Linked DNA regions of Homo sapiens. The protein of the gene in region 3 purifies or fractionates together with the protein of the main gene of each other region. This does not show direct contact. Each region holds a gene or a part of one and is shown on either strand. Other genes may lie near its edges.

Evidence for each region. Proteins that work in one complex are often made in the same cells at the same time.
Region 1: the proteins of SHCBP1 (region 3) and ZFP91 fractionate together in Homo sapiens (co-fractionation; one large-scale study listed by BioGRID). This does not show direct contact.
Region 2: the proteins of SHCBP1 (region 3) and CDK11B purify together in Homo sapiens (affinity purification with mass spectrometry, with the first as the bait; one large-scale study listed by BioGRID). This does not show direct contact.
Region 4: the proteins of SHCBP1 (region 3) and TBC1D30 purify together in Homo sapiens (affinity purification with western blotting; one study listed by BioGRID). This does not show direct contact.

Annotation. Positions count from the first base shown.
Region 1 is NC_000011.10:58,612,685-58,617,062, reverse strand, and holds part of ZFP91 (E3 ubiquitin-protein ligase ZFP91), read right to left. Parts: intron 4,302-4,378; coding exon 4,223-4,301; intron 2,835-4,222; coding exon 2,720-2,834; intron 348-2,719; coding exon 248-347; intron 1-247. UniProt on the Homo sapiens protein: Atypical E3 ubiquitin-protein ligase that mediates 'Lys-63'-linked ubiquitination of MAP3K14/NIK, leading to stabilize and activate MAP3K14/NIK. It thereby acts as an activator of the non-canonical NF-kappa-B2/NFKB2 pathway.
Region 2 is NC_000001.11:1,642,005-1,646,382, reverse strand, and holds part of CDK11B (cyclin-dependent kinase 11B), read left to right. Parts: intron 1-1,093; coding exon of another isoform or gene 1,094-1,120; coding exon 1,121-1,257; intron 1,258-3,874; coding exon 3,875-3,997; coding exon of another isoform or gene 3,998-4,036; intron 4,037-4,378. UniProt on the Homo sapiens protein: Plays multiple roles in cell cycle progression, cytokinesis and apoptosis. Involved in pre-mRNA splicing in a kinase activity-dependent manner. Isoform 7 may act as a negative regulator of normal cell cycle progression.
Region 3 is NC_000016.10:46,596,456-46,601,712, forward strand, and holds part of SHCBP1 (SHC SH2 domain-binding protein 1), read right to left. Parts: intron 3,508-5,257; coding exon 3,376-3,507; intron 1,893-3,375; coding exon of another isoform or gene 1,831-1,892; exon of another isoform or gene 904-1,830; intron 1-903. UniProt on the Homo sapiens protein: May play a role in signaling pathways governing cellular proliferation, cell growth and differentiation. May be a component of a novel signaling pathway downstream of Shc. Acts as a positive regulator of FGF signaling in neural progenitor cells.
Region 4 is NC_000012.12:64,830,269-64,834,646, forward strand, and holds part of TBC1D30 (TBC1 domain family member 30), read left to right. Parts: intron 1-108; coding exon 109-234; intron 235-1,850; coding exon 1,851-2,036; intron 2,037-4,378. UniProt on the Homo sapiens protein: May act as a GTPase-activating protein for Rab family protein(s).

The DNA.
Region 1 (4,378 bases), on a different chromosome or scaffold from region 3:
TAACATACTTCTTTTGAAGGATTGGGAAATGTTACTAGATGGAAAACTAATCTGATCTTCTTCTGTTTGCCTGAAAAACAGAGGGAAACTAAGAAAAAGGCTACTAACTAATGCCCCCAATCAATATCCACTCATTTATTTGATGAAAGTAAACAGCAGTGGCAACTAATATGTTTGTAAAGCGGCAAACCTTCAAGTAGGGCATATATCCTTCTCACCCAGATGTTCACCAGTAAATAATACTCACTGTAATGGCTTCTCGCCAGTGTGAATCATCCGGTGCACTGCCAGATTGTGGGAACTCTTGAAGGCCCGAGCACAATATTCACAGATATAATCCCTTTGATCTATGAAGAAAATACTGTGGTTAGTGTTCTATTTAGATACCCTGTAAATATTTTCCCTTACAGTAAGTAAGCAGATGATGGGGCAGGCAATTTAGAGTAAAAGCAATGCTGTTTTCAATGTATAAACACTTTGGGTAAACAAAATTTAAAAAAGAAAAGTATTGCTTTAAAAAAAATCCAACATTCAGTAGCATAAGGACCTGTTTAAAAAAAAACAAAAACAAACAGAAAAACTAGATAAAAATATAAGAAATGGAATCCTAATCTCAATTTTACCACTAATCCAGGTCTTGGATACCAAGTGGTTAGCAAGTAAACAACTATATTTTCCATATATTTTACTCCTTTAAGGAGTAAACAATTTTTTTCACAGACAATGAAAACTGAATGATTACACAGAAAGAATCTGGCATTCAAACAAAACAAAAACAAAAAACAAGAACTTGGCACTGTATAGAAGAAAACTGATCTAAAGGTAATCATACCCTGTTTCAGGTTTAAAAAATGTTACTCAAGATAAACTTTTCTCAAAAGACTGGAGTTGCTGCTATCAAATATATGTAAATAACACCTGTACTACTTTACCTTATTCTCCTACCCATCTTCTGCACCTTTCAACTACCTCCCTTTGTCACTCACAACACCCTCAACCCCATTATGCAGGATTTCTGATGAATGTGGTAACACGGTGTGGAATCTATGAGGAGGAAAAAGGAGCATTGTACTTATTCATTTCTTTACCGTGTTTGGGAAGCCCGTGCACAAAGAGATGCTCTCTATATATATTTGTTGAATTAATGACCACTACATTTTCTACTCCTTTTGCTTCAAATTACCAGAATTAATGAGAATGAAAACATGAATTTAAGTTAAAAGGTGAACAATATCCAATTTAATCTTATACTCCTTTCCAAACAGCTTAGAGATCACCTGGATAGCTTATTAAATGTATATGCTGATTCAGCAGGTCTGAAGCAGGGCCTGAGATTCTGTATCTCTAATAAGAACCCAAATGATGTCAATGCTGGTTGGTCTGTATTCCATACTTTATATAGCAAGGTCTAAAAACGCACAGTTCTAACTTAGGAAACTCTTAGCATCTCCCAGGTCATGTCCACATTTCCAGTTCCATAGCAGGACAAACCTGTGTGGGGCATCTATTTGCTAAATAAATGACATTTGCAAAAAAAAGTCTGTATATACTAATTTGCAAAAGTAAAACATCATAAATTGTATTAACCAAATATAAATATTTGAAATGGACTGAATTTATAAAAGTTTTTCATACGCTTTTGATATTTAACTAAAACAATCTAAAGTGGCTGTCAGAAACAACTTTTCTATGGCATAAAACAGTATTAACAGGGAGCAGAAGGAACAGAGAAATTGCAGTACCTATCAAGAAACAGAAATAACTGTTACTTGTGGAAATAACTCTGAAGAAACATGGTATAAGAAAACTGTAGACTTTGGAGTGATTAAGATTCAAGTTCAATCCTGGTATTGTGCCAGGCTCTGTGTAGTCAATAGCATTTTATGTTATCTCATTTCATCCCTACAATAACTGATATTGGTATCCTTAATACACAGAGAAGGAAAAGTGAAAAGAGAAGTTAAGTAACTTTCCTACAGTAAATGAAGGAGTTATTTCATTTATCAGTATGACCTTGGGCAGGAGACATATTTCTACAACTAGAATTCCTAGACTTACTCTCTAAGACTGTTGAGAAGGTAATGTGTAATTATCAAGTGTCTGGGACATACTCAGTGGTATGCACCCAATTTGTTCCTATTAGGTACACTGCACTGAGATGGTCAGTGGTTACAAATAAATTGAATTTGAGTCTATTCTATAATACATATTGCAGACACTCAGCAACTCTTTTTGACAGTTCCTATGGGAGTTTACATGCAAATTCAACAGCTAGACTTCACAGTTTCAATAGCAGCAGAGTATTATGCTTCTCCTAAAAACTAGCTATGTGACCATGGGCAGGTTACTTAATCCTGCCAAGCTTCTAGTTTCTTAGCTGTAAAATAAGATCAATATAAACAAATTTAGTGGTGTTGAATAGACTAATTAGCAATAATATACATAACGTATTTAGTCCACAGTTGATACAGAATAAATGCTCAATAGAAGATCATTATCCCGGTCATAGAAGTTCAAGAAGTCAAAGGATAAAAATTCAAAAGTCCTAGTCTGCCCATCCCTTGTAAAATTTGTCTTACTACATTTTATTTTCACACCTTTTCCCCGCACTTGACTATAGAATCTTTTAAGACTTATGTTAGAAAAACGTTATCATTACCAACATGCAAAACTAAAGCACAGTGCAATTACCTACTTGATAAACACATTTTAAAAGTACCTGTATGATGTTTGGCATGTCGCAGAAGTTGCTTCTGAAGCCTGAAGAGTCGTCCACAGGAGGGATGGGGACATACATATTTCTTCTTCAGCAAATGCTGGTATTTAATGTGGTGCTAAAACAGAGAAAGTGAAAGGGGCGAAAAAAAAAAAATTAAGGCTTCCTGAAAGTACTTGTCTTTGCTAAGTCAAAAGTACTGAAGGAAAACCAAATACTTAGATTTCACACATGGATAGTGAGGGAGTATAATAAAGTGGCTAAGAACATAGGTGGAAATACACAGACCTGGTTTCCAATCTGGGTCTGTCATTCACTAGCCTTTGTAATCTTAGGAGACAAATATTTCAAGCTCCAGTTCTCATTTGTAAAATGGAGGTAACAATAACCATCTCAAAGTGTTGTTATGGGGATAAGAGATTATGTATTGTACTGTGCTTTAGAGCAGCAAATGGCACACAGCAGAGGAGGAGCGGCTATTGTTATAACTGAACCACGATCCAGAAGAAGGCCTTCGTGTCATGTTATATTTGTTGCTGAAGATCAAACAGGTATTTCCTAAGCAGTATTTCACTTTCACGTTTCCTGCCAGACCTAAATATAAGTGGTACGTTTACTCATCAAAAATAATAATAATAATCTACTCAAGAAAAATAAAAACAAAACCTCAACTAAAAGTCTTTTATTCATTCTACACAGTACCCAAGAAATCACAGGTTTGAGTTCTAATTTTACTTTTTTTCTAAATCACTTTAAAATAAAATGTTACTCTGTATTTACACCACATTGGGAATTACTGTAATATTGAAAGATTCCAACGAAAGTTCTCTATGTGGGTTCAGATTCTTAGTCACCTCTTTTTAAACAGGAGGTGCTATGAATTTGGATGTGTTCACCACAGTTCATGTGTTGGAAACTTAATCCCCAATGTGATAGTGTTGGAAGGCGGGACCTAATGGGAGGTGCTTAGGTCTTAAAGGCTCTACCCTTATATAAATGGGTTGATATTATCATTGGAGTAGATTTGTTACAAAAGCAAGTTCAACCCATTCTTGCCCTTCCACCATGGGCTGACACAGTTAAAAGGCTCTTGTGAGATGTGGGCACCATGCTTTTGGACTTTCCAGTCTCCAGAACCACAAGCTAATAAATAAATATATGTTCTTTGTAAATTACCCAGTCTCAGGTACTCTATTATAGCAGCACAAATGGACTAATCATGATTAACCCATTTATGCTGGAGGTTGCAAATGTATTTTTGTGAAAAATCAGACCTTGGTGATGACCTTGAACAGTAGGATATAAATAACTTGCCCAAGCTTAGCATTCTAATAATGGAACACTAGGCATAAATGGGTTAAAGTCATTTTATGTTTAAAGAAAGACTTTTCTTGACATTACATGTCAATGATAAAGCCTACACAAGCCAACAAATTAAAGTCTCGTGGTGCAAGAACAAGTAATGGAACACAACCTGAAAGGCTCTTATATAACAACTTCACTGACCTGCAAATAGCGAGGATGGGCAAGGACAGTTCCACATCCTTCCATCTCACAACGGACATACTGGATTGGAGGCTTTTTTCTATTATCAAAATGCAGAAGAAAAGTTAGCAAAAAAAAAAAAGTGGTACTCTGCACAGTGGCCTCTGACTTAAACTG
Region 2 (4,378 bases), on a different chromosome or scaffold from region 3:
AACCACTAAGAAAGTTGTTTTCTTAGTGTTTTAAAAAGTACAAATAAATTAAAATGGTATGCTAAACATATGTAATTTAAAATCAAAAAGGGAAGAATAAAAAAGACACAACAAAGCAAGGAAAGTAAATCCAACTGTACGTGTAATTATATGACATGTGAAAGGTCTCTGTGCCCCAAACAGACAGGGCAGATTATCAGATAGAAAAACAAGATCTAACTGTATGCTGTCTGCTAGAGAACAGGAAAAGACGCAGCGTACAAACATCAGCTGTCATAGGAGAGCTTGAATGGCTGTACTCATACCAGACAAAACAGATGTTAAGAAATATTAGAAACCAGCCTGGCCAACATGGTGAAACCCTGTCTCTACAAAAATCACCTGGGTGTGGTGGCGCACACCTGTAATCCCAGCTACTCGGGAGGCTCAGGTATGAGAATCACTTGAACTCGTGAGATGGAGGTTGCAGTGAGCCGAGATTGCGCCACTGCACTCCAGCCTGGGTGACAAACCAAGACCCTGTCTCAAAAAAAAGCTAGAAACAAGAAGGAGCAAGGACTTCACAGCCAGAAACAGGCCAATACAGCAGGAAGATACAGCAATGATACGTGTGAATGCATCTAACCACAGAGCCCAAAATCCATGAAGCAAACACCGATCGAATGGAAAGAAATGGATCATTTATTAATTAGAATTGGAAATGGCAGCTGGGCACGGTGGCTCGGGCCTGTAAACCCAGCACTTTGAAAAGCGGAGGCAGGCGGATCACGAGGTCAGGAGATTGAGACCATCCTGGCTAACATGGTGAAACCCTCGTCTCTACTAAAAATACAAAAATTAGCTGGGAGTACAGGGCGCACGCCTGTAATCCCAGCTACTCGGGAGGCTGAGGCAGGAGAATCGCTCGAACCCGGGAGGCGGAGGTTGCAGTGAGCCGAGATCGCGCCACCGCACTCCAGCCTGGGGGACAGATGAAGACTCCGTCTCAAAGAAAATAAAATAAAAAAATGAAAAAAAAACTTCACGGATTGAATTACGTAGAAAGCCAGTTTACAAATGTGGACAAAAACGCGATAAGCAAGCTTCTGTTTAGGGGGAATGATGGCGTGTGCCTCTTCAGGGACCGCTTGGAGCAGTTAGAAAGGAAGCGGGAGCGGGAGCGCAAGATGCGGGAGCAGCAGAAGGAGCAGCGGGAGCAGAAGGAGCGCGAGCGGCGGGCAGAGGAGCGGCGCAAGGAGCGGGAGGCCCGCAGGGAAGGTAGGCGGCGCGGTGGGCAGCTGTGCTCGGCGGGACGCGTGTCTGCTGCCCCCTGGTGCTGGGCACTTGCTGTCACAGGCGGGCGCTTGGTTCCGGTGCTTGCTTTTCGCCCCTGCCTTTTTTTTTTTTTTGGAGGCAGAGTTTTGCTCTTGTCCCCCAGGCTGGAGTGCGGTGGCGCGATCTCGGCTCACTGCACCCTCTGCCTCCCGGGTTCAAGTGATCCTCCTGCCTCAGCCTCCGGAGTAGCAGGGATTACAGGCACCCGCCACCATGTTCAGCTATTTTTTTATATTTTTAGTAGAGACAGGGTTTCACCGTGTTAGCCAGAATAGTCTCTTGATCTCTTGGCCTCGTGATCCACCCACCTCGGCCTCCCAAAGTGCTGCGATTACAGGCGTGAGCCACCGCGGCCGGCCAGTACGAGCTTTTATAGTCACCCACGTCCTCACCTTAATGGAGATCTTTATTTCTTCACCCAGCTTCCGGTTTCTGTCTCGCGTCCTTTCCTTACACCCCACACAACTCCCTGGAGCTTATTCTTCAAGGCAGGTCTAGGTCTAGTAGTAATGAACTCCCTCTGCTTTTGTTTATCTGAGAATATCCTCATTTCTCCCTCATCTTTGAAGGAAAGTTTGCTGGATACGTGGTTCTTGGTTGACAATTTTGTTGTTGTTGTTTTGAGACAGAGTCTTCTTCTGTTGCCCAGGCTGGAGTGCAGTGGAGCGATCATAGCTCACTGCAACCTCGAACTCCTGGGCACAAGTGATCTTCCCACCTCAGCCTCCCGCGTAGCTGGGACCTACAGGCGTAGCGTGTGCCACCACACCTGGCTCATTTTTCAGTAGAAACAAGGTGTCCCTGTATTGCCCAGGCTGGTCTTGAATTCCTGGGCTCAAGGAACCCTCATGCCTAGCTGACAGTTTTTCCTTTTCACTTGGACTATTTCAGCCCATTGTCTTCTGGCCTCCAAAGTTTCTGATGAGAAATCTGATGATCTTATAGAGGATCCCTTGGATGCTTTAATCTGATGACCTGATTGAGGATCCCTTGGATGCTTTGAAGATTCTCTTTGCCTTAGGCTTTCAACTGTTTAATAATGGGTTTTCCTGTGGGCCTCTTGACTTCATTCTACCTGGAGTTCACTGAGCCTCTCTAATGTTTATATTTACGGTTTTCATCCAATGTGGGGGTTTTGAGGAATTCTTCAGATACCCTCTCTGCTCCTCTCCTCCCTCCTGGGCTCCCACAGATCTGTTGGGGTCCCCGAGGCCGCTCAGCACTGCTCCCTTTTCTTCAGTCTCTTCTGCTTTCTTTTCCTCAGACGATGTGATTTTATTGTCTTCAGGCTCACCGATTATTTCTTCTGCCTGCTCACATCTGCCTGTGAGTTTCTGTTGTGAATATTTACTTTTTAGTGTCTATTGTGAGCATGTACTTATTAGCTCTGGAATTTCTCTCTGGTTTCTTGTTGGATCTTCTGTCTCTGTTGATATTTCCGTCGTGTTCACGCGTCATTTTCTTGACTTTCTCCACATCTTCCTTTCGTTCTCTGAGGAACTGAAGGTTAAGACAGTTCCCTAAAGTCTTTGGGACATCTACCGTCAGGTGATTTTCAGGAACCGTGTCTGTTGGCTTCTTTTTTTCCCCTCTGAATGGGACATACTGTCCTATTTCTTTGTTTCTCTTGTGTTTTTCTTAGTCAAAAAAATGGACATTTGATTCTCATGATGTGATTCTTCCTGGTCCCCACTCAAGGGTGTGCACTTGTTGTTTTGGTTGTGCTGGGCTGTGTCTGTGGGGTCGGCCTGTTGTGGAAACTCAGGGTCTTCACGGGTCTTTTCTGAGCCTGAGCCTTTTCCTGGTCACGTGCAGCCACTTTTTAACGTTCCCGTCAATACAGATGTTTTTAATGTTCTTGTCCTGAAGTGTCTGCCTCCTAAAGGGGGAATAGAGAGAAATGAAGGGGGCAACGGGGGACGTGGTGCTCATGCCCTGGAAGTACCTTCAGCTTGGGGGTGGCCGTGGCTGCTGCCTCTTCATGCCTCTGGGGTGGGACACGCAGTCATCACACTGACCTCGGGTGTGTGTGTCCGTCTGCCCACCTGGGTCCGGCGAGCTGCATGCAGGCTGCTGCCTGCCAGCGGGGAGTGAGGTGGGAGCCACTAATGTGCGAAGCGGTGACGTTGATTAATGAATCACAGTTTACTCTCCAAGATTCCCCCTGAAGTTGCAAACCTTCAGTAGACTCCAGAGCACCTCAGTAGTTGCACAGGCCTGATCCTGTGATGCAAGTGTTGTCTCGGTGGGGAGACTGATTCCCAGTGCTTCCTACTCCATCTTTCCAGAATCTTCTCCCGCCCCTTCCTTTTTGACCAGTGAAGATCAGTCTAGAAGGTCCACCTGGGTCCTCGGGCTCACGGCCTCCAGGTTGGAGCTTTTTCTCCCTGGGCTTCCTGGGAGACCTCTGGCCTCTGACCCCGATGCTGTCAGCACCCTGTGCACGCTGTGGGTGTGTCTGCCAGGTGCGGGTGTGGGAGACGAGGCAGCTGTGCCGGGTGGGGCCTTTTGAGGAAGGCAGTGCTGCTAGTGCCATCTCCCTCTCTGCCCTGCGCGCCAGTGTCTGCACATCACCGAACGATGAGAGAGGACTACAGCGACAAAGTGAAAGCCAGCCACTGGAGTCGCAGCCCGCCTCGGCCGCCGCGGGAGCGGTTCGAGTTGGGAGACGGCCGGAAGCCAGGTGAGGCCAGGCCGGCGCCTGCGCAGAAGCCAGCACAGTGTGAGTCTTTTCTGGGGGATGTTTGGCATAAGTGTGTAGGATTCATTTAAAGCCCAGCTAAGTAACCGCTTCAGAAGAAAGTGAGAGATGTGCTGGCTGAAGTCCTCTCGTGTCGTGAGAGGGACCGTGAGTGTCTGTGTGCGGCCAGGACACAGGACGTGTGTTTATCCGCTGGGACATTCGCCACTGGCCCCGTTAGAGAAGTGGCTTCCAGCGTCTCTGGATGAGCTGGTTTCCGACCAAGCAAAGTTAATCGTTACGTGAAAGGCACTAGTTTTGGGGTGGTGGTAGCTTGTTTGTTTAAAAACATTTCCCCAAATTCACCTTTATGGTTTATCTCAT
Region 3 (5,257 bases):
GAGATCACACCACTGCACTCCAGCCTGGGTGACAGAGTGAGACCTCTGCCTCTTGGTTTCAAGTGATTCTCCTGCCTCAGCCTCCTGAGTAGCTGGGATTACAGGCGCCTGCCACCACACCCAGCTAATTTTTGTATTTTTTAGTAGAGACAGGGTTTCATCATGTTGGCCAGGCTAGTCTCGAACTCCTGACCTCAGGTGATTCACCCGCCTCAGCCTCCCAAAGTGTTGGGATTACAGGCATAAGCCACTGCGCCCAGCCTAAATGAGTAAACTTTTTTTTTTTTTTGGAGACGGAGCCTTGCTCTGTTGCCTGGGCTGGAGTGCAGTGGTGCGATCTTGGCTCACTGCAACCTCTGCTTCCCAGGTTCAAGGAATTCTCCTGCTTCAGCCTCCAGAGTAGATGGCATCATAGGCGTGTATCACCACACCTGGCTAGTTTTTGTATTTTTAGTAGAGACAGGGTTCCACCATGTTCGCCAGGCTGGTCTCAAACTCCTGACCTCAGGTGATCCACCCTCCTCGGCTGCCCAAAGTGCTGGGATTGCAGGCGTGAGCCACCACGCCCAGCTTCATAAATAATCAGTCTTCCATACACACTCATACTCCAGAGATATTGCAGGTTGAGTTCCAAACCACCACAATAAAGGAAATATCACAATTAAAGTGAGTCACACAATTTTTTTGGTTTCCCAGTGCATACAAATGTTTATGGGAGTCTGGGGTGGGTGGATCACTTAAGGCCAGGAGTCTGAGACCAGCCTGGGCAACATCGTGAAACCCCATCTCTAAAAAATACAAAAATTAGCAAGACGTGATGGCACACGCCTGTAGTCCCAGCTACTTGGGGGGCAAAGGCAGAATTGCTTGAGCCCAGGAGTTTGAGGCTACAGAGAGCTATGATCATGCTATTGCACTCTAGCCTAGATGACAGTGAGACTGTCTCTAAAAACAAAAAAAAATAAAAGTTGTGTTTATACTAATGAGCATATGAGTTTATACTAATGAGTACTATGTTTATAATGCATCTATTAAGTGTACAAAGGCATTATGTTTTTTAACAATATATACATCTTAATTTAAGATACTTTGTTTTGCTAAAACATGCTAACAATCCTCTGAGCCTTCAGCAAGACATAATCTTTTTGCTGGTGGAGGGTCTTACCTCAATGTTGATGGCTGCTTACTGATCAGAATGGTGTTTGCTGAAGGTTAAGGTGGCTATGGCAATTTTTAAAAATAAGACAACAATGAAGTTTGCCACATTGATTGACTCTTCCTTTCATGAAAGGATTTCTCTGTAGCATGTGATCTTGTTTGATAGCACTTTACACACAGTAGAAGGTTTTTCAAAATTGGAGTCAATCCCATCAAAGTCTGCCTCTGCTTTACCAAGTTTACCTAATACTCTAAATCATTTGTTGTCATTCAACCATGTTCACAGCATCCTCCCCAGGAAATTCTATCTCAGGAAACCACCTTCTTCGCTCATCCATAAGAAGCAATTCCTCATCTGTTCCAATTTTGTTATAAGATTGTAGCAATTCAGTCACGTCTTGAGGTTCTACTTGCTATCATCAGGCTCTAGTTCTCTTGCTATTTCCACCACATCTGCAGTTACTTCCTCCATTCAAGTCTTGAACCCCTCAATCATCCATGAGGGCTGGAATCAACTTCTCCAGAACCCCTGTTAATGTTGAGATTTTAACCTCCTCCCATGAATCACAAATGTTCTTAATGACATCTAGAATGATGACTCCTTCCCAGAAACTTTTCAATTGACTTTGCCCAGACCCATCGGAGGAATCACTATCAATAGCTGGTATAGCCTTAGGAAGTGTATTTCTCAAATAGTAAGATTTGAAAGTCGAAATTACTCCTTGATCCATGGGCTGCAGAATGGATATTATTAGCAGGCATGAAAACAACATTAATCTCCCAGTACACCTCCATCATAGCTCTCAGATGACCAGGTACATTGTCAATAAGCAATCATATTTTTAAAGGAATTTTTTTTTTCAGTAGTAAATCTCAATAATGGGCCTAAAATATTCAGTAAACCACATTATAAACAGATGTGCTACCATTCAGGCTTTGTTGTTCCATTTCTAGGGCACAGGCAGAGTAGATCTGGCATAATTCTTAAGGGCTCTAGGATTTTCAGAATGGTAAATGAGCACTGGCTTCAACTTAAAGTCACCAGTTACATTCACTCATAACAAGAGAGTCAGCCTGTCCTTTGAAGCTGTGAAGCCAAGCACTGACTTCTCCTCTCTAACTATGAAAAGTACTAGATGGAATCTTCTTCCAATAGAAGGTTATTTCATCTACACTGAAAATGTGTTGTTTAGTGTATCCACCTTCATCGATTACCTTAGCTAGATCTTCTGGTTAACTTTCTGTAGCTTGCATCAGCACTTGCTGCTTCACCTTGCACTTTTATGTTACAGAAATGGCTGCTTTCCTTAAACCTCATGAACCAACAGCTGCTAGTTTCAAACTCTTCTTCTACAGCTTCCTCACCTCCTTCAGTCTTCACAGAATTGAAGGAAGTTAGGGTTCTGCTCTGCAATACGCTCTGATTTAAGGAATGTGGTGGCTGATTTGATCTTCCATCCAGACTACAGAAACTTTCTCCATATTAGCAATAAGACTGTTTCACTTTCTTATCATTCATGTGTTCACTAGAGTAGTGCTTTTAATTTCCTTTATGAACTTTTCCTTTACATTCAAAACTTCACCAACTGACACAAGAGACCTAGGTGTCAGCCTATCTCAGCTTTCGACATGCCTTCCTCACTATGTTAAACATTTCTAATTTTTAAATTTAACATGAGAGACATGTGACTCTTCCTTTCACTTGAACACATAGATGCCATTGTAGGGTTATTAACTGGCCTAATTTCAATATTGCTGTGTCTCAAGGAATAGGGTAGCCCAAAGAGAAGGAGAGAGATAGGGGAATGGCTGATCGGTGGAACAGTCAAAACCCACACAATTATCAGTTAAGTTCACCATCTTTTATGGATGTGGTTCATGGCACCCCAAAACAATTACAGTAGTAACATCAAGATCACTGTTCACAGATCAGCATATTATCTATATTGTGAGAGTTACCAAAATGTGACACAGAAACACAAGGTGAGCATATGCTCTTGGGAAAATGGTGCCGACAGACTGGCTTGAAACAGGGTTGCCACAACCTTCAATTTGTAAAAAAAAAAAAAAAAAAAAAAACTCAGCATCGTGAAGTGCAATAAAACAAGGTATGCCTGTACTCAAGAGTGGCATTTCATTAAATTCTATCTTCCATAGAGAGAACCGTTTACCTTCAAATCTTAGAACAAATGATATACCAAACATTCAGATACTTACTTAAGATTCCCTCTACAGCATCATGCTGAACAAATTTTATGCCTGAGATTTTAATATCAGCACCAGTGCAGTCCACAAAAGTGTCGCCTTTGCCCCTCTTTTCTATCACAATGTCATCTGGTAGGCCATATCCTAAGGAAGAGAGAGCAACAACACTCAAGATGGGTGAGGAAAAACATCTAAACGTGAACACTGTAGAACAAGTTTCTCTAGTTTAAATGACTGCAGATGATAATGAGACCAGTCAACCATGTTGCATTTAAATAAAATCTATCTCCCCACATATCCTGTTTAATTTAAATCAGGGTATCCAATTTTTAACAATAACAACTCTCTGACTAGTCCCGTATCAGGAAGACTACCCTATCAACTATCCCACATCAGCTCAGTACTAAATTCACTTTCAAAAGTGCTATAAAAAATAAATAATGTTCAAGACCAGCCTAGGCAACACAGTGAGATTCCATCTCTACAAAAACCAAAAAAATTAGTCAGGCATGGTGGCATGCACCAATTACTCACTACTCAAGGAGGCTAAGGTGGGAGGGTCACTTGATCCCAGAATTTTAAGGCTGCAGTAAGCTATGATCATGCCATTGCACTCCAGCCTTCATTCTGGGTGACAGAATGAGACCCCATCTCAAAAAATGATAATAATAATAATAAGGACTTACAGCTGAGTCAAAGAACTTTAAAGCACTCACCCTTAGAAGTTTGTTTCTAACTCTAACATTCTATGATTCTAATATAAATTACATTTGAATAAACCTAAACAGTTCTCAAGATGATCTAATTTTAATATTCTCTTAAACAGTTGGCTTAAAATCTGACAAACTGACTAGTTACAGTTACAGGAAAAAAACAGTCTACCTCATTAACAAATAAAAAGCATCAGATCAAGGCTGGGTACGGTGGCGCACGCCTGTAATCCCAGCACTTTGGGAGGCTGAGGCAGGTGGATCACTTGAGGTCAGGAGTTCAAGAGCAGCCTGGCCAACATACAGAAATCCTGCCTCTACTAAAAATATAAAAATTAGCCGAGTGTGGCATGTGCCTGTAATCCCAGCTTCTCAGGAGGCCGAGGTGGGAGAATTGCTTGAACCTGGGAGGCGGAGATTGCAGTGAGAGGAGATCGTGCCACTGCACTCCAGCCTGGGTGACAGTGACTCTGTCTCAAAAAAAAAGCATCAGATCTCAGTGAGGTGCAGTGGCTCACGCCTATAATCCTAGCACTTTGGGAGGCCAGGGCAGGTGGATCACTTGAGGTCAGGAGTTCGAGACCAGCCTGGCCAACATGGAGAAACCCTGTCTCTACTAAAACTACAAAAATTAGCCAGGCATGGTGGCAGGCACCAGTAATCCCAGCAACTCAGGAGGCTGAGCCAGGAGAATCGCTTGAACCCAGGAGACAGAGGCTGCAGTGAACTGAGATCACACCACTGCACTCCAGCCTGGGCGACAGAGCAAGACTCCACCTCAAAAAAACAAAAACAAAAAAACCATCAGATCTGTATAAATCTTACTCAAACCATTAATGCAAGCCAAACACCTGAGTGGGCTTACAAAAAACTAGAGTATCAGAAAACTAAAGAATTCGCTTGACTTCCATTATAAAACAGAACCACATAGACAAAGCTGTAAGAAATAACTCTCATTGACTAAAGACGAATCTTTGAGTAAATGAAAGCAGTAACTGTTTTTAACAAGCAAAGCCGCTCAATGTATCTACACTGGAAGAGGACAAACAAGGCTTTGGGGGCCCTAGAGAATGCAAGGGGACTCCACACACTGGAATGCTACCAGGGGTGGACTCTGGATGCCTGAATTATGAGTGATTTTGTTTCTGATTGTTGTATGTATCTGACTGTACTTGGCATATTTT
Region 4 (4,378 bases), on a different chromosome or scaffold from region 3:
GTCTAGGGACACTTCCCATTTTCTTGTCGAATGCAATAACTACTTTCTAATAAAGGTGAAGTTATATATTCTACTTTGGCATTCTCCTTTGTCTATGTAATATTTTAGGTTTGGTTGACCTTGGCAGATCATTATTTGCACAGTATAGCCATTGACTGGGACAAAACCATGCGCTTCACTTTCAATGAAAGGAGTAATCCTGATGATGACTCCATGGGAATTCAGATAGTCAAGGTAATGCCCCTGAACTTGGCCTGTCATCCTAATATAGAAGAAAGACTCTAAAAGCCAGTTGCTTTTTGGACAGAGGATCAAATGATCTCTACCTTCTGGTTTGAATGTCTGTATATTTTCTGCCTTCTCATTTCATTAGCTTTTTCATGGGGAACCTTGACAATGTGTTGTCTGCATAAATTTAAATGTTACCGGTAAGAAGAAAATATTTGCAAATGAGCTTTCATTCACATTCAACTTATTAATCTTCCTCACACTATAGGAAGGACGCTTTGTCATGGGTCAATGATGCCAACTGGATTTTTATATAAAAGTCACTGATTGAAAAAGTTAGTTAAGTATATTTCATATGAGAATGATTTGGTTCTTATTAGGGTCTTTGATAGTTTCTTAACTGCCAATTTCTAAAGACAGGTTCACAGGTGGGGCCTACTTCCAACCAAATACTTGTGGGTTCAAGCCAGCTGTGTAGGCAGTTGTGGCTCGCTTACCTGGATTATTACAGTTGAACAGAGCCTGGTGCTAAAAGCCAAGGATACTGATTCTGTTTGATCCCAGTATTATCCTCTTACATAAGGCTCTAGCACATGGTTTTTGATTTTATATGAGTACATTACAGTGTGATACTCAGCTGGGGTTTTAAAAGGAAAGTTGTTTCATCCAAATTTTGGCCACCTCAAGATGGCTAATGTTTTGGCATATTTGGAGGTTTTTTTTTAAGGAGGAAGTACTAACTAAAATGAGCTACTTTCTGTTCTAACTTGGTTTCAGACAAATGCTAAAAAAGTTATGCAATTTTACATTGTGTACTAAAAAGCCTTTGCATTATTCACATTTAAGCTATATATTTGGAATTTTAGAATATGTTTCGCAGAGATGAAGTATCTCATATTTGAAATATTTCCTTTTTGTCTAACTGGTGAATTAAGGCAATGCACCTTTTGTAACAATCATCTTTTAAGAGTATCTTTTGTTTTCTCATTGAAGTGAATGCTGTGTCAGTTAATGACTTCAGCTCTTGAAAATTGTAGTTCCTGCTTAGTAATTAAATTATAGATATTGCCTTCATTAAAGCATAGCAAATATTTCTGTCTTTCTTATATACATTCATAAAATAATTTGAATAGAATGATTTTTCTCTCTATAATCACATTTTTTGCTATTTTGATTTCACTCCTTTATGTTATTTAGAGTTTTGATAGCTAAATATTATACTTTATTTGTAGAAAGGAAGAATGTTAGCCTCAATCATACATGTATTGTGATGACTATTGTTTTACCTGAGAAATATTATTAAAACAATCAATTTACATGAAATTATACTGTAATTATTGTTAATTCTGAGCTACTTTTTGTGGTAATCCTGGAAACGTTTTAAGTTGAAAATTTGCCTGACTGAAATTCCCCTTGCAAATCTCTCTTAAACAGCATATTACAAAATATTATGAAAAAGAAAGCTAAAAATGCATTTTGGCTCATATGTATAAAAACATACACATTTTAAAAAAATTTTATGTCGATGATTTGACTCTGTTTATTGAGTCAAAAAAAAAAGGTATTGTTTTGGAAAGAATATTAGGAGTTATTTTTGAAAATATTGTTTCCCTTCCATTTAGGACCTTCACCGCACAGGCTGTAGTTCTTACTGTGGCCAGGAGGCTGAGCAGGACAGGGTTGTGTTGAAGCGGGTGCTGCTGGCCTATGCCCGATGGAACAAAACTGTTGGGTACTGCCAAGGCTTTAACATCCTGGCTGCACTAATTCTGGAAGTGATGGAAGGCAATGAAGGGGATGCCCTGAAAGTGAGTAGCAGGCTCTGACAAAGGCCATGGACATTCTTCTGAGAGTGAGAAATTGGAACCATAATTTCTCTTCCTTGATGTCTCATCCTTTTCCAAGGTGTTTGCCACACCTTTGTAATGACCTATGATAGCATTTCCTCCAGGTTAGAGCCATGTCAAGTGACAGATTCATGTAGCTGCCAACTATGAGGCAAATGATTATGTATTTAGTCTCATTTATAAGACATCATATTTTTAAAGCAAGTTAAATATTAATTGTATTAATTATTCATTGCTGTTCAACAAATTAGCTGCTTAAAACAGCAAATGTATTATCTTACAGTTTCTTTGCGTCAGAAATCTAGGCACAGCCTAACTGCCTCAAGGACACATCACTGTTGCTGTTGGTTGGTGTTGCGATCTCATCTGAAGGCTCAATTGGGGGTGGGCATTGGCTTTCGAGTTTGTTTATGTGGTTGTTAGCAAGATTTAATTCCTCACAGGCTGTTGGACTGAGGCCATGGTTCCTTGCTGGCTGTTGACTGGAGGCCTTTTATAGTTCCTTGCCATGTAGCCTCTCCATCTCTCAACCCAGTGGCTGGCACCCCCAAAGTGAACATGAGAGTAAAAGATAGTGAGCAAGGCAAAAGAGTTTAAGTTACAGATTTGTAGCCAAACATCAGAAGTGACATCCCACTATATTTCCATATTCTGTTCTTTAGAAGCCAGTCACCAGGTTCAGCTTATAGTCAAGGAGAAGGGCTCATACAAGGGTGTGACTCAGGGGTCATGTTAGAACTGCCTCCCACACTAGTTATGCTTAATTTTGATTGGATTGCCTTATTGAGTTGCTTTACTCTTTCATATTTGGAGCAAGATATGGAGGAGTTGGGCTGAGAGTGAGTGTCTAAGGAAGGTGTTTGCATGGAGAAGCATTATGGAATTGACTTACATTAATATCTTTTAATCTTTGATGCCTACGACCTTTATTAGTTAAAACAAATTTTAAAAACATGTTGAGATGGGGCACTAGTGATTTAAGCTTAGTTTGCATGTGTGTCAGTGAGTCACCAGAAATAGAGTGCTTATGAGAAATGAAGCATTTTAAATGTGGAGGCTAATGCCTATTTGCTTAAGGCAATGTGGGATTACTAATTCATATTTGAACCTTTAAACTGCTCTTGATTGCAATGCTTTGTGATGTATGAGATAGATACTTAGTCTTCGTGTTCAAGAACCGCCCCCCGACACAACCCCACTCCCAACAACTTGTGTTTGACTATGGTGAATACCTTATTGATACTGTCAATCACTGATTAATGTGATGTGGAAAAATAAACAAATGTTCCTCTTGGTTTTATACAAATGATGGTGGACTAGTTATAAATCCAGCTTGACATGATCTAAATCTGTATTCAACCTCTCACTTTTTCCATTGATGTATTTAAGGAAGCAGCTTTGAAGTTACTTGTTCATCAAAAAGGTGAGGGTAGGAGAGGGAGGAAGGCAGTGACAAATACATGACTTTAAGATGTTTTTTATTAAGAAGCAATTTTGTTTACTCAGTCTATCAGCTTTCATCAGTTTTTTTTTTCAGATGGAATTGGTATGATGATAAAATGGGAATTGTTTTCTAGAGCAATTGGAATAAGTGAATCAAGTTAGGGGGTCGGATGGAGATGTTCAGGGAAGGAAATGTACATGCCAATCAAATTATAAAAGGGCTCAGTAATACTTGAGAAACTGGAAATTAAAAACTCACGTAAAAATATGGATTAGATAAAGATGAGAAACTGAATATTTCAGCCCCCACGAAAATGGGCTCCATGCAATGAGATGATGTCATCATCCTTTAAGAGTGTATAGATCTTGTGTTTAGACATTTAATATGCAGAGGAAGGTTGGCTTCATGAAGAAACACTTCTGATGTTGAGGAAAATATTGGACATCTATTTTTTCAGCATGGCCTCTACAAGTCATAATTACTAAGGAAACATATAGTTTATTAGAAATAGGTGAACCATTTTTCCTGCTATTTAGCACTTAAGTTTTTACTTAGCAAATCTTTCATTTTCAACCTTTTGTTAAAAATTCAGAGCTCTCCCATTATTTAGCCAAATCTTTTTTTTTTTTTTTTTTTTGAGATAGAGTCTTGCTCTGTCACCCAGGCTAGAGTGCAGTGGCATGATCTTGTCTCACTGCAACCTCCACCTTCCAGGTTCAAGCAATTCTCCTGCCTCAGCCTCCCGAGTAGCTGGGATTACAGGTATACACCACCACGCCCAGCAAATTTTTATATTTTTAGTAGAGATGGGGTTTCACCATGTTGACCAGGCTGGTCTCAAACTCCTGACCTCTCAGGT